Linked DNA regions of Homo sapiens. The protein of the gene in region 1 purifies or fractionates together with the protein of each later gene. This does not show direct contact. Each region holds a gene or a part of one and is shown on either strand. Other genes may lie near its edges. The genes, in order: GPN2 and TUBA3C.

Region 1 (12,466 bases):
TAGCCTCCTGGGTAAATCACTTTCCTTTTCTGAGCCAGTTATTTCTTAATGTAAAATAAGGACTAGATGATGCTGAGGTCCCTGATTCAGTTTTATAAATCATTTCTCACTAAAAGAAGTAAGTTGGACTTCCCCCTAGTGGCCTGTTTCTGCCCAGAAAACTTAAGTATCTGGGCTCCCTGGCAGCTCTATCCTAAAGTAAGCTGAGGACTCTACATCACTCCATGTCCAGACTAGAAGCTAACTGGCCTCCCTGGACAAGGTCCCGACACCTCCCTTTCCCAACAACCTCCCTATTGCTCATGTGCTGGTCATTTTATCTGTCTTCTCTAGGTTCCTTTGTTGCTAGAGATGCTATTTAGGGAACAATGTCCCCAGTTCAGGAGAGTACTAATTTTTTTTTTTTTTTGAGACAGAGTCTTGCTCTGTCGCCCAGGCTGGAGTGCACTGGCATGATCTCGGCTCACTGCAAACTCCCTCTCCTGGGTTCACGCCATTCTCCTGCCTCAGCCTCCTGAGTAGCTGGGACTACAGGTGCCCGCCACCATGCCCAGCTAATTTTTTGTATTTTTAGTAGAGACGGAGTTTCACAGTGTTAGCCAGGATGTTCTCAAGCTCCTGACCTCGTGATCCACCTGCCTCGGCCTCCCAAAGTGCTGGGATTACAGGCGTGAGCCACTGCGCCTGGCCTAATTTTTTTTTTTTGAGACGGAGTTTCACTCTTATTGCCCAGGCTGGAGTGCAATGGCGAGATCTCGGCTCACTACAACCTCCGCCTTCCAGGTTCAAGCGATTCTCCTGCCTCAGCCTCCCGAGTAGCTGGGATTACAGGCATGCACCACCATGCCTGGCTACTTTTTTGTATTTTTAGTAGAGATGTGGTTTCTCCATGTTGGTCAAGCTGGTCTCGAACTCCTGACCTCAGGTGATCTGCCCACCTCGGCCTCCCAAAGTGCTGGGATTACAGGCGTGAGCCACCACGCCCAGCCGAGAGTACTAATTTATCAAGAAAAAAAAGCTGGCCACTGGGACTCTAGCCAACTCCCCTGCCTCATACCAGCCTGCTTCTACCTCAATCTTCCCTATTTTGTCCCTGGCCTCCCACCCCTTCTCTGTCTCTGTGCCAGGTGAGAATATAGCCTCCTTCTGTGAGGACAGAAGGAGGCTGTCTAGGAGCCAGGAAGCAGACTCTCACCAGACACCAGATCGGCTTGTGTCTTGATCTTGGACTTACCAGCCTCCAGAACTGTGAGAAATAAATATTTATTGGCTAAGCCATCTGGTCTATGGTATTTTTGTGATGGCAGCACAAACTGACTAAGACAAGGCCTTTATTCCTACTAGTGCCTCTGCATAGAACAGTCCTCCCTTGGCTGGCTCCTTCTCACCATTCATGTCTCAGCTCAGATGCCACTGCTTCAGAGCAGAAGTGAGAAACTGAGGTCCAGAGAGATGAACTGACTTACCCAGACCACACGATGATTCAGTGGCAGATCCAGAATTTAAACTCATGCCTGTTTTACTCCAAAGCTCACTCACTTCACTCCCAAATATTCACTGTCGTATCACTTTAATTCCTTTGTAACACCTAACACCATCTGTAGCTCTCTTGTCTCCAAAATCTACAACGGTAACTAGCACAGAGTGGCACAAAATAAATGGGCAGGAGTTAGAACCTGCCTGTGGCTACTATCACCAGACCACGCAAGGCACCAGAGGCAGCTACCTTCAGCTGAGATGTCTGCTTCATTCTAGCCCAGCTGCTGCCCTGCTCTTCGCCTGGAACAGAAGCTCTTACCCAGCTTCCCATAATGCTCAATGAGGTCCATCTTGGAAAGGAGGTTGATGTGGGGCAGTTCCACGTGCAGCATGGTGGCCAGGGAGGTACACAGTACTGAAATGAACTTGGCAGGGTCTGTGCAGTAGTGAGAATCCACGAGGTGGACGGCAGTCAGCTGGGAGGGAATAGACAGGGTGAGAGTGGCCTGGAGAAACAGGGATCAGCATTCCCTCATGAGAATGAGGGCTTGAGGACAGAGGGGAAGCTTTCCCCATTAGTCTCCTGCCTCTGTTTCTTTCTAATAACCACCCTGGTTTCCTTCTCCCAGGAAATAGGAGTCATTTTTTTTTTCTTACAAGAGGTCTTGCACTGAGCCTCCCAGTGGGCAAGGGGTTTAAATCCCATGGCATCTGACTCCACTCTTTCATTTACTTTTGCCCACCAATTTACAACAATCTCCATGCCACTTTCGACATTAACCCCTTCCATACTTCCAAAATCGCCAAGTTGGCTACTAACACATTTTACACGTGAGGAAACTGAGGTTCAGAGTGATGAACTGACTTATCAACACCACACAGCCAGTCAGTAGCAGAGCCAGATTCTGAACTCATGCCTGTTTTACTCCAAAGCGACCCAGCCCCTACCTCCCTGTGTGACATGGGGGCGTGGCGTCTGTCCTCCCTGTCTCAGTTACTCCATCCGCAAAATGGGCCTCCCCGCCCTGAGACGCACCCTGAGGTCCCACTGCGCCATTTGGGAGAAGATGCTGCGCAAGGCGCCGTGATGCGTGCAGAGCTCCACCTGGCCTGGGCAGTCGAAGAGGAAGTAGTGGCCGCGGAGGGGGTCGAGCTTGGCACGCAGCCAGTCCAGGTTGGCTTCCAGGTACTCCATGCAGTAGAGCAGGCCGCCGTTGGGCCCCAGGCGCAGCGCGTCCATCACGTCGCCCAGCCCCACCAGCTCGCCCACGTCCACGGCACACTCGTACGGCAGCCCCTCGTTGGCCGGGTCCAGGTTCACCACCGCCACGCGCCGGCCCAGCGCGCGCAGGAACTCACTCATGCCCAGGCAGTACGTGGTCTTCCCTGAGCCCGGCGGGCCGATCACCGCCTGCCCGAAGGCCGTGGTCGGAGCGGCCCCTGCCATTGGCGGCCCGCGGCCCGGAGCAGGTCAACTCACAGGGAAAACGGGGCAGGTAGCCGCGCCGGAGACGAGACTGAGGGCGAGGGTCCCAGTACGTATACCTCGTTGGCGGCCAGCGTCACTCGCCTCAGGCGGAACAGCTGAGACCGTGTCGCGCAAAAGGAGATAACAGGCCGATACTAACTAGACTAACTCGACTTCCGGACAGCGTCGGAAACGGCGAGCCAACGAGAGGAAGTCCCGCCCTCACGGCGGGGACGAAGCTAGACGCCGAGGGGCGGGCGGCGCAGCCGCATTTCTCTCGCGGGTAGTGGGTCGAATGTGGGGTCTTTGCGGGAAAATCGCTCTCGGAATTTCTCTAACCTTCAGACTCGAATTAGAAAAGTAAGGGAGCTCCAGTAGTAAACGTCTTTATTCTTCCGTGACGTCGCACACCCAAGCCACCTCCCGCGGACTCTCCGCTGGCAGTCCCACCCAGTGAGGGTAGAGGCGGTGGAGGGCCCACCCAAGGCCGGCTCTTCCAAGCACCACAAATCCTCTCCTCGCCCAGGTCCCTTTCCCCCTTTCTGGCCTTCGTGGGGACACCTTCAGAGTCCCCAAGGAAGGCTGTGCTGATAGCCTCACTCAACCCAGCTTTTCAAAGTTCTGCAGGAGGCAAAGGGCAAGCCCAGAGATTAGGGTTAGAGACCAAAGACAAGCGGTCGTTACCCCTAATATCCAAGGGGAGGGGACGGGAGGGGGCTTTTTGTAAAAATGCCCCTGAGGTATAGAACCGGCAGGCAGGCAGGCTCGGAACAAAACACCCTGAACCAGCCACGAAGACTGCTGCTCCCAGACTCCTTTCTGCTTCAGTGGTAGATGAGGCCAGGGCAGAGGGTTTTCATCATGTAGCTATGAAAGGAAGCCCCCAACCCGGTCAGTCAGGCAATGAGGGGCTGTCTGAAGCACAACTGGAACCCCTCACAAAGGCCATGTCTGTCCGAAACTTCATGCTGGTGGGTGGCTGGCGGCGGAGCAGTGACTCCGTCTGGTCTTGGGGTAGAGGCTCATCATAGATGGTGGAGATGAGCCCCAAGCCATTTCTACGGGGCCTCTTCAGTTGCCCAAATGGCTGTAGCTTCTCTCCATGGTACCTGGATAAAAACGGGCTCTCAGTGAGAAGGCTGCTCTCAAACTCCAGTTAAAGGGGTTGGGAGAGGACGGGGAAGTAGTTACTACATATCTGGTTTGTCCAAAGACAGAGGCTTTAAATCTGGGTCTTTGTTCTCCAGCCCTCTTATCTATCCATTGACAGTGCCAGCAAGAAGGGGCCTCATATAAAATTTTCATTCTGTCACTACAGACTTCCTAATAGTAACCATCAAGTCCAAACTCCTCCAACAAAGGGTATGAATGATCTTGTTAAGCCTTAGGGCTTACTCTTTAAAAAAAAAAAAAAAGTCAGATTTACTTTATTTATTTATTTATTTCTGAGATGGGGTCTCACTATGTCACCCAGGCTGGATTGTAATGGCGTGATCTCGGCTCACTGCAACCTCCACCTCCTGGGTTCAAGCGATTCTCCTGCCTCAGCCTCCAGAGTAGCTGGGACTACAGGCGCATGCCACCATGCCCAGCTAATTTTTTTTTTTTGTGACAGAGTCTTGCTCTGTCACCCAGGCTAGAGTGCAGTGGCGCCATCTTGGCTCACTGCAACCTCTGCCTCCTGGGTTCAAGCGATTTTCCTGCCTCAGCCTCCTGAGTAGCTGGGATTACAGGCACCCACTACCGTGCCCAGCTAATTTTTTGTATTTTTAGTAGACACAGGGTTTCACCATCTTGATCAGGCTGGTCTGAAACTCCTGACCTCGTGATCCACCCGCCTCAGCCTCCCAAAGTGCTAGGATTACAGGCATGAGCCACTGCGCCCGGCTAATTTTTGTATTTTTAGTAGAGACGGGGATTTCACCATGTTGGCCAGGCTGGTCTCTAACTCCTGACCTCAAATGATCTGCCCACCTGGGCCTCCCAAAGTGTTGGGATTACAGGCGTGAGCTACCACGCCCGGACTTTTTATTTTTCTAACAGAGACAGTCTCATATGTTGCCCGGCTGGTTTCAAACTGGGCTCAAGGAATCCTACCACTTCAGCCTCCCAAAGCGCTAGGATTACAGGCTTGAGCCACCGTGCCTGGCCCAGATCCACTTTTTCCTCTTAACTGTTTTGAATTTCATCCCGCACGAGTACCCAGCAGCCATGCCAAAACCAGTGGGAAGAGGGAAACCAGGGCATAGCTGAAAGGCTTGGGCCCCCAGGGAAGTCCCTCAGTCACACTTACCCCAATCCACGCTTGCATCTGGGGTGTTGGCCATCACTATCCAGGGCCTCAGGCACCCCTGAGCACCTGCAGCCCAGGCCCTGGCCCTCAGCCCAGCCCTGCCGCTCCATCACCTTCCGCCCAATGCCCTGCAGAGTGAAGGGACAAGACTCAAGAAATGGGGCTCCTGCTGGGAGCAGGGAGAATGGGGATGGGAGAAGGAATTAAAGTAGAGAAGGAAAAGAGAGGGGTCCATGGGGTGGGCACAGTGCTAACTCACCTTGGTGTGGCGCTCAAAGGTGCCCACCTGGCGTTCGATCACAGAGCCATCTTCCTGTCCATCTCGGAGTCTCTGTTCCAGACGCATTTGGACAGAGTCTCGGGCATCCTTGTCTCCACCATCTGAGGAAACAGAGCTCAGTTTATGGAAGCGTCCCTCTCAAAGAAGGGGGAAGAATCAGGTTTCTAGGACCCCCTCGTAAGATTGACTTATTCATTTTAATAGTGTTCTGTATCTCTCTCATTAGACTGGGAGCTCCCCAAAAGTAGGAACCATGGCTCTCCCCAATCATACAGATGAGAAGATTGTGGTGCAGAAAAGTAACAGAGCCAACAAATGACAGAGAGAGGATTAGAACCCAGGTCTTCCCTCCCCTACTTGGCTATTTCCCCCACCCGGGTCATTTCCTCTTCTAAAATCTAAACCCTTACTAGAGCCTGAGCTTCTGACCAGCCCACCCTACCAGGGCCTGACCATCAGACCTAGAGCCCCTAAGGGCTATCTATCCCTCCTCCTCCTCCAAGAAAGGATGAAGGCTCTGTCCAAAACTAGCACTTAATGTACACAACCAAAGATGTTTTAAGAGGAACCCTCTCAGTGGGCTACCCCAAGGGAACGGGAACGGTACCCTGTCTCAGCCTTTGCTAGCTCTGGTAAAGTGTCACTGCAAGGCCAGGGCACCTGTTTCACCTCCAGTATTGCCACTCCTTGCCCAGTACCTCTGTCATAGTACACACTCATGTCCACATCCCAGTCATCGGCTGTCTGTTCATCAAAATCTGTAGGGACAGAAAAGCATCCAACAGAGTACATTAAGGACTCTCAGTTCTATTAAGAGTTAAACCTAGAGTTTTTTTGGCTTTTTTTTTTTTTTTTTTTTTGAGACAGAATCTCATTCTGGAGTGCAGTGGCATGACCTTGGCTCACTCCAACCTCTGCCTCCCGGGTTCAAGTGATTCTCCTGCCTCAGCCTCCCAAGTAGCTGGGACTACAGGTGCATGCCACCATACCCAGCTAATTTTTGTATTTTTCATAGAGACGAGGTTTCACCATGTTGGCCAGGACGGTCTCGATCTCTTGACCTCGTGATCTGCCCACCTCAGCCTCCCAAAGTGCTGGGATTACAGGCGTGAGCCACTGCACCCAGCGGGGCATTTGTTTGTTTTAGAGAAGGTCTCACTCTGTCCCCCAGGCTGGAGTAAAGTGGTGGAATCATAGCTCACTGCAACCTTGAACTCCTGGGCTCAAGTGATCCTCCTGCCTCAGTCTCTTAAGTAGTTCGGACTACAGGCATGAGCCATTGCACCCAGCTTGTTTGTATTTTAAGATCCTTCCTCTGGGAGGGTTATTCAGAATTTGTTGGGGGCGGGGCGGGGGGCATTTTCTCTCCATCTCACTGATCCCCACTCTTAAAAAGGATGATTGGTCTCTCGTATACAATAGAGGTCAGCCTGTTCCCTAGCCTTTTGTTTGGGCTCACCACTACAGAATCTACCGTGTGGAACAGGGAACCCCAAAAGAATGCAGCAGGGGTCACCCCTGCCTTTGCCTGGGTACCAGCATTACCTCCTTCTTCCTCCTGCCAGAACTGGGCATCAGTATAAAACACCAGGCCAGAGCCACCCTTCTCCCACTTGAGCTCAATCTCCTCCTCAAAGAGCTGCTCAGTGGTCCGCTCCTGCCCGGTCACGTCCTCATGCAGCGCTTCATGCCGTTCCCATTCCTCACCCCGGTCATCGTCCTAAAAGGCAGGGAGAGGTGATTTGCCTGAGCTTCCTGACCTCATGCCCCGAGGGAGGGAAGCTCAGGGCACAGGAGGCATGTGTGGCTAGCCTCAGCGCCATTCCTTCAGATTTCTCCAAGAAGCAGCACATATTTGGCCCCTGACCAACACGTCTCCAGCCCGATAATTCTCAACAGTTTGCTCCTGTCCCCACAAGCCTGACTCACCTCTGCGCGTTTGGCCATGTTGTTCCCTGCCTGAAATACCCACTTTCCTCTCCCACACCCTTCTCTTCTCCACTTGATTAAATCCTCCTCATCCCTCAAGTCATACAGCCTACATGAAGCCCCCCACATTTAGGCCCACAGCTCTCATACCAGTCTCTGAACTCCCAATGCTAATCAGTACACACTGGTTAGGCCTTTTTATGTCATATCACAAAGAAAGAATGGACAATAATGCTTATTGTCTCTGGTGTGTCAGGCCCTTCCCATAGCTTAGCTCCTTTAACCACTGCAACAACCCTATGAGATAAGTACCATTATTCCCATTCTACAGATGACAAAACCTAGGTTCAGGGGAGTAAAAAGTTCTTTGTCCAAAAGAGTACACTGAGGGAGCAGCAGAGCCAGCAATGCAAACCCGGGTGGCCACATCCAGGTGCAGCATCTCCAGATGCTGGTTCTTTCTCTTCAGGGAGATTTTAGGCTCTTTGAGGGCAGGAAATGGGTCTTAGAATGCCTTTGGAATCCTACACTAGCCCTTGGCTTGACGGGACTTGTGGAATGATACAATGACTCCTAGCTTGAAACCCTGTAGGCCTTCAAGTGCTGAAGAAAAGTCAGGATGGGGCCAGACGCAGTGGCTCACGCCTGTAATCCCAGCACTTTGGGAGGCCAAGGTGGGAGGATCCCTTGAGCTCAGAGGTTCAAGACCAGTCTAGGCAACAAGTCAAAACCCTATCTCTACAAAAAATACAAAAATTAGCCAAGTGTGGTGATGTGTGAGTGTAGTCCTAGCTACTAGGGAAGCTGAGGTGAGGATGGCTTGAGCCCAGGGAGTTGGAGGTTGCAGTGAGCTGAGATTGCACTACTGCATTCCAGCCAGGACAATAGAACCAGAGCCTGCTTAAAAAAAAAAAAAAAAAAAAAGGAAAGGAAGGAAGGAAGGGGAGAGAAGAGGAGAGGGGAAGTCAGGATGGTACCACACTAGGGATGTGGTCCAGATGTCTTAGCAATCTTGGCTGGGAGCTTTTTTTTTTTTGAGACAGAGTCTCACTCTATCGCCCAGGCTGGAGTGCAGTGGTGCGATCTCAGCTCACTGCAACCTCCACCTCCTGGCTTCAAGTGATTCTCCTGCCTCAGCCTCCCAGTAGCTAGGACTACAGGCACCACGCCTGGCTAATTTTTGTATTTTTAGTAAAGGTGGGGTTTCACCATGTTGGCCAGGCTGGTCTCGAACTCCTGACCTCAAATGATCCACCCATCTTGGCCTCCCAAAGTGCTGGGATTACAGGTGTGAGCCACTGCACCCAGCTGGCTGGAAGCTTTGAAACATGGGTGAATTACTTTTTACCCGGAGTACACATTTTTAAAAAAGTTTTCCCAACAAATCACACCTTACTTGATTTTATGGATGTGCAACCAAGTTTGGAGAAAGGAACCAAAGAAATGTCTATGTCACTAATGAAGTGAGAGTGGAGGCTACTGTTCAATCTGCTGACTCTAGGTCAGAAAATAGAGATGACTGTTCAGCCACATTATGACAGCACGCACAGGTTAGAGAAGAAGCAAGAACTGGGTTCATATCCCAGCTCTACCTCTATTTCCTGAGATGATCTTAGACAAGTCACTGCACATGTTTTGGTCAGCACATTTTCATCTATGAAAATGAACTCTCCTTATCTGGTCTTTCATGTGGAATTTTTTTTTTTTTTCTCAGCTCACTGCAACCTCCGCCTCCTGGGTTCAAGAGCTTCTGTGCCCGGCTGGAAATAATTTTTAAAAAAGAAAAAATGGGCCTGGCGCAGTGGGTCATGCCTGTAATCCCAGCACTTTGGCAGGCCGAGGCAGGTGGGTCACGAGGTCAGGAAATTGAGACTATCCTGGTTAACACGGTGAAACCCTGTCTCTACTAAAAATAAAAAAAAAAAAAAAAATTAGCCGGGCGTGGTGGCACATGCCTGAAGTCCCAGCTTACTCGGGAGGCTGAGGCAGGAGAATCACTTAAACCCAGGAGGTGGAGGTTGCAGTGAGCCGAGATCGCACCACTTCACTCCAGCCTGGGTGACACAGTGAGACTCTGTCTCAAAAAAAAAAAGAAAAAAATGAATAAAGAGGAACCATCCTGGCCAGGCGCAGTGGCTCACGCCTATAATCCCAGCACTTTGGGAGACTGAGGCAGGCGGGTCACGAGGTCAGGAGATTGAGACCATCCTGGCTAACACAGTGAAACCCCGTCTCTACTAAAAATACAAAAAATTAGCCGGGTATGGTGGTGGCCGCCTGTAGTCCCAGCTACTTGGGAGGCTGAGGCAGGAGAATGGCGTGAACCCAGGAGGCAGAGCTTGCAGTGAGCCGAGATCGTGCCACTGCACTCCAGCCTGGACAACAGAGCAAGACTCCGTCTCAAAAAAAAAAAAAAAGGAACCATCCTTATATATCCCTTCCAAGGGAATGAAAAATAAGACCCACTTACGAATCTTCTGGTAAAAGCTCTGGACCATCTCCCTACAGAAATACAGAAACACACATGCAAATATAGTTTTACATTCCTTCTTGGACTCCTTGGAACCCTCCTGAGGACCCCAGGTTAAGAACCCTTGTAATAGACAATTGAAGAGTGGTATTATTAATGCCTTCGGCCTCTTTCAGCTGCCAGCAAGGACAGGGTAGCACACTGTACTCACCTCATCTGAGTGAGACTCTTCTTCCTCTTCCTTCCCCACTTCTTCCTCAGGCTCTCCACAGGGGCTGGCTGGTATATCTGCCAGGTAGGTTCCTTGGGGTATTTCTTCACCCTCTGCTGTATACACAAGCTCTTCCTGCTCCACAGTCTCTGAGTCCTCATACTCAAAAGGCACATTGCCGTAGCGCCGGGAGGAACCTGTCTTGGGGAACTGGAGCTGCAGCTGGGTGATGATCCGAGGGGGTAGGCGGCAGGCCCGGATCAACTCCAAAAAGACCCGCAGGGGAGTCCCCACATTCCCTCTGGGCATCAGCACTGGTGGGTTCAGCTCCGGCAGTTGCTTCAGGTCAGCCAGGGTGAAGGCTTCATTCTCTGCCTTCCAACTCTGCAGTTCCTTCCGGGTCTTGAAGGGAAAGGAGCCCAGACCTTGGAAAGGAGGGAGAATAGATCTTGAAACCCAGAAGCCTCCAGCAACACTTGAGCCAGAAATTGGCCAATGTTTAAATCTGTTAGCCTTTCCCTAGTAAACATCTAGTAAATCCCTAGTAAAAATCTAGGCCGACACAGTGGCTCACGCTTGTGATCCCAGCACTTTGGGAGGCTGAGGCAGGAGGATTGCTTGAGCTCAGGAGTTCAAGACCAGCCTGGGCAAAATGGTGAGACCCTTATCTCTACAAAATATAAAAAAATTAGCTGGGAGTGGTGGTGCACCCTGTGATCCCAGCTCCTTGGGAGGCTGAAGCAGGAGGATTGCTTGAGCCTGGGAGGTGAGGCTGTAGTGAGCCAAGATTGCACCACTGCACTTCATCTCGGGCGACAGAGTACCCTGTCTCAAAAATAAATAAATAAATAATAAAATAAATCCATTAGCCTCATGCTGTTCCTCCCTCTCAAACTTCTCCAGGTCTTTTCATCTCTCCCCAAGCGGAACTACAGAACTACCTAGTAGTTTCATGTCACTTCTCATCACCTTGGCTGGGCATACAAGTTTCTTCCAGCTCTGGCTCCTGATGAACTTTTTTTTTCTTTTTTTTGAGACAGATTCTCACTCTGTCACCCAGACTGGCGTATGCAGTGGTGCAATCTCAGCTCACCGCAACCTCCGCCTCCCGGGTTCAAGTGATTCTCATACTTCAGCTTCCCAAGTAGCTGGGATTACAGGCATGTGCCACCATGCCTGGCTGATTTTTGTATTTCTAGTACAGACAGGGTTACGCCATGTTGTCCAGGCTGGTCCTGGCCTCAAGTGATATCTACCCACCTGATGACCTTTTGATTCTCGGCTGTCACCAACTCCCACCTCCTGCATGTCTTCATACGATGTGTTCCAGCCACACCAAACAATTTTTCTCCTAATTTCTTTTTTTTCTTCTTTTTTTTTTTTTGAGATGGGGTCTCGTTCTGTCACCCAGGCTGGAGTACAGTGGCGCGATCTTGACTCATTGCAACCTCCACCTCCTGGGCTCAAGTGATCCCCCCACCTCAACCTCACAAGTAGCTGGGACTACAGGCATGCGCCACCACAACCGGCTAATTTGTATTTTTGGTAGAGACAGGGTTTCACCATGTTGCCCAGGCTGGTATGGAACTCCTGAGCTCAAGAGATCCACCCACCTGTGCCTCCCAAAGTGCTGGGATTACAGGCACGAGCCATTGCAACCCAGCCCACAATGAACAATTTAACATGCCCTGAAAGTTTTTCACGGGCTTTCAAAGCTGTGTCTTTGCAAACGCCATTTACCCTGAAACCCAGAAACACCATTCTCTCCTATTAACTCCTATTTATTTTTCAAGACCCAGATGGAAAGCCACATTTCATGATCCATCTAGGAAGTTAGTTTCTCCCTTCTCTGTCATCTCACAGCACTTGGTGATAAACAGTATAGGCTCTGGAACAGATGCCTAGGTTTGTTGTAGCTCTGACACTAACTAACTCTGTAACCTCAGGCAAGTCACATAACTTCGGCTTCCCTCAGTTTCTTCACCTATGAAATGGGAGAAACAACAGCTCCTATCTCATAGGACTGTTGAGAGGGGTAAGAAAACAAAAGGCTTAGAACAGCGCCTACTAAATACAGAGTGCTCAGTGAATGCTAACAATTAGAATGACATCTCTGTGGCAATAACCTTTTTCCAAATGTCTTCCTTTGTGGATTCTGAGCACACACTATGTCCAACTGTTCTCTGCATACCCAGCTAGTCACACTAGGTCTAGCAATGTAAGCATTTGTTGAATGTGTGAACTGGAGGGCTCTGCACTGTCCTGTTTCCCCATCAAACTGATTTCCCATGAAAGTGGGAGCTGTCCAGAGAAAAGATTGTCTCTTCATTTGTATC
Region 2 (7,548 bases), on another chromosome or scaffold:
GCCTGGGCCCCACAGGCTTTCAGGTGACACTGTCATCTCATGTGGGGCCACTGAAAGGGGCTGTCTCTTTGCAGCTCTCCTTGGAAACTATCCTGGGCTTCTAATCTGGAGGAAGCAAATGACTGTTCTGTACTTAACCTTCTATGCCTAAGATGCAGGTCAAGACTCTCTTGCACCAGCATAAGAGTACACAGCATTCAGGAGGAAACCAATGCCATTGTGCCCTGCAGGCAGGGCCACCTGAACAGGGCTGAGGCAGCCACGACGGAATCTCTCCACAGCCCATCTTACTGTTGGCAAAGCAGCTTTTCCCTGTAGGCCAGGTTTTCCTAACTTAGGAGCCGAATCTCACAGACACTTTAATCACGAACCTTTCAGTTTCTGTTAACACCATGGGAATATGCTTGTCTATCTCATACCTTCTGCAGGAGGATTCAAAGGAGCCCACATGGGGCCTTACCGACGATGCTCTCCCACCCTCCTAAGAAAGCTGCCATCCAGGACCCGAGCACCTACCGACCACAGTGGGCTCCAGGTCCACAAACACTGCTCTGGGCACGTGCTTGCCAGCTCCAGTCTCACTGAAGAACGTGTTGAAGGAGTCGTCCCCACCACCAATGGTTTTATCACTTGGCATCTGACCATCGGGCTGAATTCCATGTTCCAGGCAGTACAGTTCCCAGCAGGCATTGCCGATCTGGACTCCTGCCTGCCCCACGTGGATAGAGATACACTCACGCTGTGAACCAGAACATAAATGTAGACCCATTCATTTCAAGGCAACTTGAAGCTATATGGTATGCAAAATATTATAATTTAATATTTATATACTGCTTCAGTATCTGGTGCTTTCACAATTGATATTTCCTAGGAGGGTTAGGTGACTGACCCCTTTATCCCTGTGAAAACTTACTTGCTCTACACCATCCCAGCTGCTAAGTTCCAGAGGTAGCCCTAGAACCTAATGTTTGCCACTACACAAAAATTAGATTATTTTAAAACTTGGAAGCCATGTAATGTCAGTAATCAAACCCACATTATAGCCAGTCACAGTAATTCTCTGAAGAATACATAGCAGTTTTTGATTATGTCCTACCAAAGGATAAGGTAATGGGGTTGGGTAAGGAAATAGAGAGTAGGTCCCAGGTCACTGTGGTCCAAGCCCAGGTGTTCAGTATGTGTCCTCTCTCTGCACCCCCAGATCTACCCTCCATCATTCACCACCCGCCCTGTGCTCTCCGAGGCTGACCCATGAGGACAGCATCAGAGGCCTTCCTTGCTCTCTGGCTTCGTGCTGGTTTGTTCAATGACAGGCAGCCGCAGGAGACCAGGAGGCTGGAGGAGAGTGGCGTCAGGGTACTCTCCCCTTGGCCCCTTCCTGCTCACCTTTCATGGGCGATACAAATCCCTCCATCAAGGCCACACTTTTGGCAGGTGGCCCTCTTCATAAAGTTACCCTCTCAATTTTTCGTAAGCACTCCCTCCCCTCTACCCCTTGAAGCCTAGGAGTGTAATGGCTCCCAGATGTCATCAGTGCTGGGACACTGCACTGTCCTTGGTGGTTTCTTTAAGCCCTGACAAGCCGGATGTGGTGGCTCATGCCTGTAATTCCAGCACTTTGGGAGGCTGAGCTGAGATCGCTTGGGACCAGTTTGAGACCAGCCTGGGCAACTATGAAAAAAAATTTTTTTTTTTTAAACAGAGTCTTGCTCTGTCACCCAGGCTGGAATGCAGTGGCACAATCTCAGCTCACTGCAGCCTCTGCCTCCCGGGTTCAAGCAATTCTCCTGCCTCAGTCTCCCACGTAGCTGGGACTACAGGCCACTATGCCCAACTAATTTTTTGTATTTTTAGTAGAGATGGGGTTTCACCGTGTTAGCCAGGATGGTCTCGATCTCCTGACCTTTTGATATGCCCGCCTTGGCCTCCCAAAGTGCTGGGATTACAGGCGTGAGCCACAGCGCCCGGCCGAAAAATTTAAACATTAGCCAGCTGTGGCAGCACACACCTGTAGTCCCAGCTACTCAGGAGGCTGAGGCAGGAGGATTGCTGGAGCCCAGGGGTTCAAGGCTGCAGGGAGCCGTGATCGTGCAACTGTGCTCCAGCCTGGGCAACAGAGCTGTTGTTGAGCCGTTTCAAAAAAAAAAAAAAAAAGATACTTGACAAACCACGGCCACTGCTATTCAGACTTGGGACTTAGAAATCTATTCTTTATGTGAATGCGTTGGTTGCTTTTTTTTTTTTTTGAGGCAGGGTCTCTCTCTGTCGCACAAGCTGGAGTGCAGTGGCACCATCATGACTCACTGCGGCCTCGAAGTCCTGGGCTCAGCTGACCCTCCCACCTCAGCCTCCCGAGTAGCTGGAACCACAGATCCACGCCTCCACCCCGGGAATTTTTCTATTTTTAGTAGAGAAGGGATTTCGCCATATTGGCCAGGCTAGTGAGGAGCCCCTGACCTCAGGGGATTCCCCGCCTCCAACTCCCGTCTGAGCTTTAATTCCTGATCTGACCAATGTCCACAGCCCTTGCCTCCATCAACAAGGCTCCTGGGGCTCCTCAGTGGTTTCCAATAGGACAGAGACATTTGGAGACCGGAAAGCGGGAGCAGCGCCCTTCTGTCTTCAGGAGGCGGCACCACTGTTTGCTCTCTGGGGGACAGGACACGGTCAATGCTCCCCGTCCACTGACTCAAGGCCGGCAGCTTCGTCTAAAACAAAAGCTGCCATCCCTGCCCTGGAGCCCGCAGACCCAGCAGACGATGCCGTGTCCTCGTGTCCCGCCCTGGGCCCCGCATCCTTCTCTGACCTCCTTTCTGCACCCTGGCCCGCAACAGCATCCCTCCATCCAGCCACCTCAGGAGGCCAACTTCGTCCACCCTCCAGCCTGGGCGTCTGCGGGGTGGGAGTGACCTGGCCTTACCATGTTGAGCTCCTCCGCTGCCGCAGCCCAACGCTACTACTTGACCTCAACCGCCGCTGCAGCTGCGCACGCCCAACGACAGCCTCCCGCCGTGCGCTGTCTGGGATTGGCCTGCTGGTGCCAGGCCACCATTGGTCCGGACGTCCTGGGAGGCGGGCCAAGGCTCGGATCCTAGTTTTGATTGGCCGTTGTGCAAACCACGTAGTGGGGACGCCCTCTGATTGGATGCAGGATTGGCGGGAAGGCAGCAGGCTCAGAGAGGGCCCTCTGACTGGATGCAGGACTGGCGGGAAGGCAGTGGGGTCAGAGGGCAGTGCGTGGGCTGAGACGTTTCCGGGGGTCCTCTGACCGGGGATGGAGCAGCTACTGCGTCTTTATAGGTGGAGGAACATTGCTTTGTAAGTAAGCTCCCAGCCTTGCAGTGGCTTGACCACGAACTTGTGCCGCTGCCTCCTCCCCAGTTGCCCCAGACCGGTTCCTCTGGAGGTGCCTTATTCAGATCTTTGCAAACATGGCCGCCTTTGAGAGGCCTTCACGGCATCTACCCAAGTCACAGCAGCACAGCAATCACCCCACCTTCCCACCCAGCACCCGGGAAGTGGCGGGATTCGATCACTTTTGTGATCTGAAAGGAAAAAGTGAGTGGGTTTCTGTGGCTCACGTCTGTAATCCCATCACTTCGGAGGCAGAGGCGGGCAGATCACCTGAAGTCAGGAGTTGGAGACCAACCTGGCCAACATGGTGAAATCCCGTCTCTACTAAAAATACAAAAACTATCCGGGTATGGTGGGCGTGCCTGTAATCCCAGCTACTCGGGAGGCTGAGGCTGGGGAATTGCTTGAACCCGGGAGGCAGAGGTTGCAGTTAGCCGAGATCGCACTGCAGCCTGGGCGAGACTCCGTCTTAAAAAAAAAAAGAAAAGAAAAGAAAAGAAGAAGCAGAGGTAAAATTAATATAGGTGGAGAGGTTGGGCTGGGCGCAGTGCCTCAGGCCTGTAATTCCAGTGCTTTGGGAGGCCTCCGCCGGAGGATTGCTTGAGGTCAGGAGTTTGCAACCAGCCTGGGCAACGTGGTGAGACCCGTCCTGCCCCCGTTTCTACAAAAAATAAAAAATGAATAAAATTAGCCGGACATGGTGATGGGTGCCTGTAATCCCAGCTACTCGGGAGGCTGAGGCACAAGAATCGCTTGAATCCGGGAGGTGGAGGTTGCAGTGAGCCGAGATTGTGCCACTGCACTCCAGCCTGGGTGACAGAGGGAGATTCCGTCTCACAAAAAATAAAAAACTAAAAAAAAATACAGTTTATTTGGGCCAAGTTTGCGAACTGCAACCTTGGAGATGCAAGTTGCCTTAATATACACTCTAATTAGCAGCAGTTACAAATGGGTTTTTAAAGGAAAAGAAGGGGCAGTTTCTAAATTGTTTACCAAGAATTTTACAAATAGAGACAGAGTCTTGCTGTGTTGCCCAGCCTGGTCTTGAACTCCTGGCCGGAAGGGAGCCTCCCACCTTGGCTGGCCTGGCCAGAGGAATGTATATTAAAATAACATAAGCTATTTATTGGCTCTATATTGTCTTTTGTATCACAAATTCTAGTAACAGGAAGATAAAGCTAGTCAGGAACAAAATGCCTTTACACAGCTGCTGGGGCATGGGTATGAGGTGTGTGACTGAAGTCCCATATTCCTGTCTCTCTGGGCCTGATACATTCTGCACACCTCGCATAACTCAAAGTGCTTTGAACACTTTTTCTTTTCTCTCTCCTTTAGTGAGAGGGACTGGGTTTATGGCCACCAGGAAAGGGGAAGGCACAGCCCTGTCCTGGGAAGAGCAGAGTAGGGACACAATGCCCATTTTGGAGGAGTCTGGAACAGTCACCTGATTCTTATTTATTTATTGCTTATTTATTTATTTTTTGGACACTGGTTCTCACCATGTTGACCAGGCTGGACTCAAAACCCCTGGGCTCAAGTGATCCTTATGCCTCAGGCTTCCTTGTAGGCTGGGACTACAGGCGTGTAATTCTTCCCAGTTTGATTCTTCCATTTCTAAAGATCATCTTAACAGTGTATATTCAGTTCTGAGAAAAGGCCTGGAGGAGACGTGCTGGCTTACCCCCAGCTCATCACCAGGATGCAGCACCCTATCATGGCATCTCCCTAGAGGGTGGCCAAGCAGGCTCTTAACTTTCCCTCCTGAGAGGAGAGCAGAGAAGAGAGAGGGAGCTCCCCCAGTGGGATGGGACTCACGAGGTCCAGGAGTTGAGACTTTTCTGTGGGCTTTGGGGACCTCTGAACAGTGCAATCAGGTCTGCCCTTAGAAGGATGTTTTGGCACAAAGAGGAGGAGCAGGGAGGGAGATCTGTGGAGAGCCAGGGAAACCAGAGGAGGCCTCTTGCCTCCTGCCTCTTCTCCCCAGAAGGGTGAATCCTTCCATCTTAGTCGGCTCCGGCTGCCCTAAAAAAATACCATCGACTGAGTAGCTTAAACAACAGAGTTTTATTTTCTCACAGTTCTGGAGGCTAAAAGTCCCAGAGGCCTCTTGTCCTGGCTGGCACACAGCCACCTTCTTACCATGTCCTCCCACAGGGTGGGGGAAGGCAGCACTCAAGCTCCCTGGTCTCTTATAAGGACACGAATCCTACTGGATCAGGGCCCACCCTTATGACCTCACATAATCATCATCATTTCCTTATAGGCCCCATCCCCAAATACAGTCACATTGGGGATCGGAGCTTCAGTGTCTAATAATGGGGGGACACAGTTCAGTCCACAGCCCTCCCCTTCCTCAGGGCTCCAACCACATCATGCACAGAACTCAGCTGTAGCCCATGTCACCCCATGCTCTTCAGTACAGTCATGCGTCCCTCAGAGGCTGGGATACGCTCTCAGAAAGCCATCATCAGGCAATTTCGTTGACGTGAGAACATCATAGAGTGTACTTAGACCAACCTACATGGAGCAGCCTACTGCCCACCTAGGCCACATGGTACAGCATATTGCCCCTCAGCTACAGACCTGTACAGTAAGGATTTGTGTATCTAAACATAGAAAAGCTACATGAAAAATAATGGTATTATAATCTTATGGGGCCACTGTTGTATATGCTGTCTGCTGTTGTCCAAAACATCATTATGTGCCACATGACTGCAATATTTATTTTTCTGATTATAAAAGTAACACATATTCCCAGTAGAGAGTGTGGAAAATTAGGAACAAAATATTTACTCTACTGTAAATAACAAAATAAAAATTGAGTCTTGGACGTGCCCATTTTTACTGTAAGTTATGATTCCATAACTGACTTGTAGTAAACAGTATTTCTGGCCCGTAAGTATTGCTGCTTTGTGTATTTTATTTAGTATACAGTACTAAAAAAAAAGTGTTGTCAATTATTAAATCCTTGCAGTAAGCCAGCTAACAAAGTTTACATATAGTCACTACACAGAAAGGAGCACAAATTATTTCCTCTTTTGCTCAGATTCAAACAGGCTTGAGTGACAACTTGAGGACAAGGACACTTTGCCAAGATTTTACGCAGCGGCTGGCAGGGCCAGAGAGGCAGCATGGTGTGGCAGGAGAATGAGGACCTGCGCAAGGTAGGTGGCTCAGTTCTGGGTGAGAAAGGCTTACGAGACTTTGCAGTTTTGTAAGGTTGAGTTCATACAGATGTTTAAAGACCTTCTTGGGACTCCTACTCATGGACTGTCCCTGCTGCATGCAGGACACCAGGGCCAAGCCTGGATCTAGGGACCAGCCGGGTGCTGCATAGCTCGTGTCAGCTGGCTGAGCTTGGCTCCCAGTCATGGCTGCCTACTAGCACCTTGCCTGCAGCAGGCACCCACTTCGCAGTCATCTGCCATCTCCAGTTCAACCCCACAAAGTAAGCAGCAACTCCCCCACCCCTGCCAATTTTGAATGAGGAACTATGTCTGTGTTATCTGCAGTGATACGCTGGGCCTGACACCAGTGACTCCCCCTTCTCTCTCCACCATGTGATGACAGGGAGCTGCAAAAAAGACCATTTGTTAAAATGTGGGTAATTCCCCCATAACTTCTTCATAAATTTGGTTTTTAGTAAGATGTGTGAAACTTTATGTTCAAATGCCAGTATAGTAGTAATAACACAAGTAGGTTCTGTTTTCTAAAATACATTCATTTATACACTTAAGTCCTTGGACCTATAGTTTGTGGTCTGTCCTCTAAAATGTGCCAGATTGTAAACCCAAATTGCTACTTAAGATCATCTGTGGTGTGATTCCCCTGCATGACTTGTCTGGGACTGCAGTGTGGTCTGGGTGCTGTCTCATTGCTTAATGTAGTCACAATAACTCTGAGCCGGGCAGAGAGGCCTGGGGAGGCCTTTCCTCCCCATGCGGGAGCTGCCCTGCCAGCTTGCTCCACCTCTCCTCACTTCCAGTCACAGTCCAGCAGGTGTGACAGCGACTAAACAACCACATTGTTGACCAGATTGGCTGTGGGGAGGTCAGGGTCATCAGTGCAGCAAGTGGTAAGGTTGGGTTGTCAGTACAGCTGACCTCACGGTAAGTCCAACTGTGGCTCTCCACCCAGGGAGACTTTGATTTAAATCTTTTTCTTCTTAATTTTCTTTTCTTTTCTTTGTTTTCT

The links.
Region 2: the proteins of GPN2 (region 1) and TUBA3C purify together in Homo sapiens (affinity purification with mass spectrometry, with the first as the bait; 3 studies listed by BioGRID). This does not show direct contact.

Annotation. Positions count from the first base shown.
Region 1 is NC_000001.11:26,887,171-26,899,636, forward strand, and holds the start of GPN2 (GPN-loop GTPase 2), read right to left. Parts: upstream 3,114-12,466; 5' UTR 2,927-3,113; coding exon 2,516-2,926; intron 1,956-2,515; coding exon 1,799-1,955; intron 1-1,798. Other genes in the region: GPATCH3 (G patch domain-containing protein 3), read right to left, coding at 3,840-4,056, 5,241-5,368, 5,500-5,621, 6,219-6,278, 7,066-7,240, 10,131-10,555. UniProt on the Homo sapiens protein: Small GTPase required for proper localization of RNA polymerase II and III (RNAPII and RNAPIII). May act at an RNAP assembly step prior to nuclear import.
Region 2 is NC_000013.11:19,178,825-19,186,372, forward strand, and holds the start of TUBA3C (tubulin alpha-3C chain), read right to left. Parts: upstream 3,001-7,548; 5' UTR 2,924-3,000; coding exon 2,921-2,923; intron 740-2,920; coding exon 517-739; intron 1-516. UniProt on the Homo sapiens protein: Tubulin is the major constituent of microtubules, a cylinder consisting of laterally associated linear protofilaments composed of alpha- and beta-tubulin heterodimers.